2 separate regions of the Homo sapiens genome follow, and region 2 is linked to region 1. Evidence: fine-mapped expression QTL. Tissue or cell type: whole blood. Region 1 holds a variant in brackets; the other region holds the start of a gene. All regions are shown on one strand. Distances are between the middles of the regions.

Region 1 (2,917 bases):
AGAATCACTGGGGACAGGTCCTGTATTAATCCCAAACATTCTTTCCATTAGACTGAGAGTTTGCTTGAGGTCAGAGATTCATGACTATCTTGTGGACATGTGATTTGCAGAGCCCAGCAGAATAAACACAAAAAATTATTAAGTAAGTGAATTTTGTTACATACCCTTTACACAGAAAAATTATTTTCCCTAGCAGAATAACACATGAAAAATTGAGTAAATAAAATTTATTACATATCCTTTACACACGAAAAAACCCCTATCTTTTTCACAGTGTAAATAGGTCTGTGCAGAGGAATATTTTTTTGCTTGTTAAAACTTTGTTTCAACATAACTTTGCTTACACAAATACACTCATATTGGTTAACAGAATGCAATTTAAGTTTAACTTATCCTACACAATTTGGATCAAAAACTTGGTACATGGTTTAAGATTTTTAAAAAGGATTTGCAATCTGGTTTATTTTTATCTATTACAAATGTATAAAAGATCCTTAATAAAATGCTGCTAAACAAGGCAGCAAGAACCTTTGGTTTGCTTCAGAAAAATAACACATATTGCACTGCATAAGTTTATAAAACTGGTGCAACAAAACATTGTTGTATGCCAGAGACATTGTTTCAATGCCAGTTTAGAAAGTTCAATAACTAATGGGTATGGAAGAGACTGGGAGAGAACCTATGTCCACATGTGAAACTGTAAAAGCTATCTGATTTAGTTAGTATTGCATGTAGATTGTAAATTCACACAAACCAAAATTCAGATACTTTCTAAAAGCAGAACTTCCATTCAACCCAGAAATCTCATTACTTGGTACATACCCAGAGGCATATAAATCATTCTACCATAAAGACACATGCACACATATGTTTATTGCAGCACTATTTACAATAGCAAAGACTTGGAACCAACCCAAATGCCCATCAGTAATAGACTGGATAAAGAAAATGTGGCACATATATACCATGGAATACCATGCAGGCATAACAAGGAACAAGTTCATGTCCTTTGCAGGAATATGGATGGAGCTGGAGGCCATTATCATCATCAAACTAACACAGGAACAGAAAACCAAACACCGCATGTTCTCATTTATAAATGGGAGCTGAACAATGAGAACACATGGACACAAGGAGGGGAACAACACACACTGGGGCCTGTTGGTTGGGC[A/G]GTGGGAGAGAGAACACCAGGATAAATAGCTAATGCATGCAGGGCTTAATACCTAAGTGATGGGCTGATAGGTGCTGCAAACCACCACGGCACACATTTACCTATGTGAAAAACCTGCATGTCCTGTACATGTATCCTGAAACTTAAAATGAAATAAAATAAAAAGAATGTAGGTTATCATTGCTTCCAAATAGGCAGCAAATCTAAAACTAAAACTGTCAGCAGTTTAGGCTTTCAGAACTCAGTTGTCAGATTCCTGCATGGCAGGTTAGGCCAGAGGCACCTGCTTCAACTAAGTGGTCATCTTGCCTACTCCTGAGGAAGTCAGAAATGGTCATTGTTGGGTCTGTCTGAATAAGGCCGTGTGTGGGTCTGCAGACTCAGAGAATAACTCTCCTGTCACCCTTGGGTCAGCACCAGCCTGGGGAGGGTCTACAGAGGGGCCTGAGCACAATTCCGCAAGGTGTCCGTGGAGAGACTCCTCCTCATCCCAGTCTGGCCTTCCAGCCATCCAGAGCACATCCCATGTGTAGGGAGGGGACATGGGCCCCAATTCTAACTCTGTCCTGTGTGGAAACCACACTGTATGTGAAGGCTGAGATAACAGATGGAGGAGGTGAGACAGAAAATGGCTGTTGCAGCCACAGGAAGTAGTGTTGCTGCATTCACAGGTAAATTTACAATAAACAGTCTTGCTTTCATATCTTGAGAAGGTTCTGGGAAATGGGCTCACATCAGTTGTAGACCACAGACCTCCTGGGGACATGCTGAGAGGCACATGAACAAAAACCTCTACACTGTATAATAAAGAGGTACAAACTTCTACAAATGGCAGGTAACACTGGTTTAAGAAAAATGCTGCATTGCCAAAGCAAAGGAAGAACTGAAACTATGAGGAGACATTGTCCAAACCTAAGTGCAAAGCCCTTGGGATGGAGGCGATCCTGACTCTTGAGGCCTTTTCTTCCTGTCCTGACCCTCCTGGGCACGCTTTGCTCCCCCATGATATTGAGGAATAGGTCAGAAACCAGGGGCTTTCAGGGGAACAGTATGGTTTGTGGTAAGGTGAGATAGGGATTGGAACATGAAGAAAGGGGGGCTGAGTGCCCATGTCTCTCAGCACAACCTGCCTCCTTGGTTATTTTGCACCAAGAGGGGGACAAAGCTGACATACTGGCCCCTCAGTCTCTGCAAGTCAACACTGTGTGGAATCTCAGGGGTCAGACCCCAGAACTTCGGGCTTTTACGAACATAGCTCCCTGGACAGGGCACTCTACTCCTCACCTCCCAGGGTTGGCATTGTCACTCTCCTGGTCTGGTCACCAGGTATGGTCTCCATTAGGGATCACAGGTCCTCAGAACCAGCCCTGTGCAGTTCAGCTGTGTTCCCACAGCTCTCTGAGAACTGAGTCTCTGTTGATGGGTCATTTGGCCAGCCTGTGCTAATGGGTGAGTAGAGTTTCGTGCTCACTGGGTAAGGTCAGAAATATCAGAGAACTTTGGATGTTGATGTGGGAAGAGAACTTAAGTCACCTCCCGCAATCCTCACTTTAACCATAAAACAAGCATCATGCCCCCAACCTTCATCTCCTGACCCCCAGGCTGCTGCTCTTTCCATGAGGTGGTGAACTTGTCAGTGGGAGGCACAGGTGCTAGGGTGCTAATGGCAAAGTCCATGCTGATGGGCTCCAGTGGAAAACCAGGGCCTCCATGCTAGCGAGGAGCCCTAGTGATGCAAACACAGTC
Region 2 (2,917 bases), 22 kb after region 1:
TCCTCCCAACATCTATCTTACTCCTCCTTTAAGGCTGTAGTCACATCACTTACTAGAACCATGGGACATAGGGGAAATGTTCCATGTATGCTCATGTTCAGAAGGGACAGGAGTGAGAAGGCTTGAACAAGAAATTTCATGAGGGAGATATTTAAAACTGTGCTTGGAAGTCTCTACAGATGATCTAAAAGATGAAGCAGGAGAAGCAATATTTGCATCTCCAAACCTAGAGGAACAGTGCAAAAACAGAAGGACCTATCTCCAGTTGCTGGGAGTGAGACCAGTTGTTAGCTCTCAGCTGTTGAGCCGTCAGACCTGTCCAGAAATTAGCTTATGCTGAAGAGAGATGCCCTATGTAAGTCAAGTGTCTTTTCCAGAGGAAGTTTGCATCCGATGGGGATTATAAAGTTCTGCTCACTCTCCTTCATTCTGAAAGTCCAACCAAACTTTAGAACTCCCTGTAGAGTCTATATTTGTTGTGACTACATCTCAGTCTCACTTCTCCCTGCCTAATCCTGGGTTCTTCCCTTCTCCCTCTAGCACATTTCCTGAGAAGATTCCCTAATAAACTTCCTTCATCCATTTTATCTTCATCTCAACAGTCTGTATTCCTAGGAACCCAAACCTTTGCACATGTACATGTACATATCACTTATGTTAGGAAACGCAGTGATGTAATTTGCAATATTAGTAGGTCAAAAGGAAAAAGACATGGAATTATATCAGTCAACGTCAAAATAAAATTTTCTAAATTTATACCACAGATAAAAGACTTTAATGAAATAGGACTAAGCAAAGTATAGCCACACTGATTTTAAAATAAACTAATTAATTTCCAATAACCAACATCAATATTAATGATAAGATATTAGGTGCCCTACAGGTAAATAAATAATAAAAGCACATTAACTCACTTTTGAAAAGGTAGCAAGCAATTGTAATTATACAAGAGAAAGCAACATAAGATATTTTTGGAAACAAGGAGGGAAAATTATCACTATTTGCAACTGAGTCTATGATAAACCTGGAAACTCCAAGACAATCAAAAGGAAATGTTTTAAATGCTAGGATGTGGAGAAATAAGAACACTTTTACACTGTTGGTGGGACCGTAAACTAGTTCAACCATTGTGGAAGTCAGTGTGGCGATTCCTCAGGCATCTTGAACTAGAAATACCATTTGACCCAGCCAACACTCCAGAGTATTACTATAGACATTTCCTAGACAATTTCTCCCCACAGGGAGGTTCTCTGAAATTACAGAGCTGGACAGGGAAGAAAGGCCCAGAATCCTAGAAGCCATGAATGAGTTATGTAAAAATGTTTTGATGGTTAATGATCCTTACAATCAGACTCAGACAAAAATGTCCCCTCTCAGGTTCCCCTTTCTGTGCCCTTCTTCCCCTGGGCAGTGCCTATCAGAGGCTCCTCTTCTCTCCCAGTGGCATCTGCTTTAGAACAATCCCTGCTGCTGGTGTCAATGAGGTTTAAGCCCTTCTCAGGGGGCCATTTGCATCTAGACAAACTTCTAACTGTTGGGACATATCCCAGCTGGGAAGGACTGAAATCCACCAACTTCCTTGGCATTCATGCCTTTCTTTCCAGTCCAGATGAAATCATTAAAACACTCTTTTTTCACTTTTGAGAAGAAGAGACAGTTGGCCCACATGACAGCAAATAACTACTGATTAACTTTCCATTTAAACTGTTTATTTTGCATAATGGCATGAAAGAGAATTTCAAACACAGGCACGTGGTGGCGTTCATTAGCAGTCAGGAAGCTCAGGAAGATTCAAGAGAGGAAGAAGACCGACTGGAGTCTCGGTTTTACTTTCTTTTTCTCTTGGAGCTGAGCTATAAGACAACAGGACTGAACAGGGAGCCAACTGTTTCTTTGAACAGTAAATCAGGTAAGCCCAGATTTACGAAAAGTTCTGCAGTGTTGATTTCTAGGTCCCAAGCCATGCACAAACATTTTCATTTTTCTTAGAACAAATTTGTCCTATTTTAAGAGAAGCAATTTAGAGTGACTGCCTTTTCCTTAAGTGGAGCCAGTTTACAGGAAACCGATGTAATTTACTTTACACATTACTGGCAAAGAAAGAATTTCCATAGTATAAAGTCAATAAAAAGTGCTAACTGGGAAGAATTTGGGCATTAATCGGTGGCTTTCAGTTTTCTGTGCTTGTACGCTTGGTCTATGCCTGCCAGATTTAAGCAAGAGAAACTAGCTGATGAAAACGTACCGATATTTCTCACTCCATAGTAGTTCCTACATTGCAAGGGCTTCATAACCAGGGGCTGTTGGGGAATGAGAAAAATTCAAGCCATTAATGGATCAAGTGAAGTGTATTTCCAGCTTAAAGGACTGCACGGTTTCCCAGAGTCATAATCTTCATTCACTGAGTCTCTCAGCAAAGACTCAACATGAGGGAGGAGGTTTGGAGAGAGTAGAGGAGGGAAGGAGGCAAGGTGGGAAAAGAAAGAGAGGGAAAGGGAGGACTGAGCCTAAGGTGTAAGGGAAGGCACACCTACAGAGAAAGCTGACAGAAGCGAAGAGTGTGCAGGCAAAACAAAAACAGAAGGGAGCCGGGCTGATCTGTGAGAGGACGGGAGGAAGAAAGCGAGAGAGAGCTGGGCATGAGGCTTACAAATGAAACCCACTTCTCAGCCCCTCAGCAAGTGATTCCAGTTCTCTGTAAAGTAGGAAGTCATTCCTTTCCCACCCACCTTGTCCCTTATGAGTAGACAAATGAAACATGGTTGTTTAGAAATATAAGGATCTTGGCCTAGTGTGATGGCTCACGCTTTTAATTCCAGAACTTTGGGAGGCCGAGGCTGGTGGATCATTTGAGGTCAGGAGTTTGAGACCAGCCTGGCCAACATGGTGAAACCCTGTCTCTACTAAAACTACAAAA

Evidence for each region. PIP is the estimated chance that this variant, and not a neighbour inherited with it, causes the effect.
Region 2: GIMAP2 starts here. The variant in region 1 is fine-mapped to the expression of GIMAP2 in whole blood (TOPMed, PIP above 0.99).

Annotation. Positions count from the first base shown.
Region 1 is chr7:150,662,222-150,665,138 of GRCh38, forward strand. All of the region lies in intron 2 of LOC124901774 (a long non-coding RNA gene), which reads right to left. Among named protein-coding and RNA genes, the nearest start is that of GIMAP2, 22 kb to the right of the region's middle. RefSeq lists an enhancer at 1,864-2,083. The variant A/G (reference allele first, on the strand shown) is at 1,172.
Region 2 is chr7:150,683,877-150,686,793 of GRCh38, forward strand. It overlaps GIMAP2 (GTPase, IMAP family member 2), which reads left to right and starts at 1,830. Exons shown (of 3, transcript NM_015660.3): 1 at 1,830-1,909. It overlaps LOC124901774 (a long non-coding RNA gene), which reads right to left. Exons shown (of 4, transcript XR_007060589.1): 2 at 2,246-2,300. RefSeq lists an enhancer at 1,705-1,904.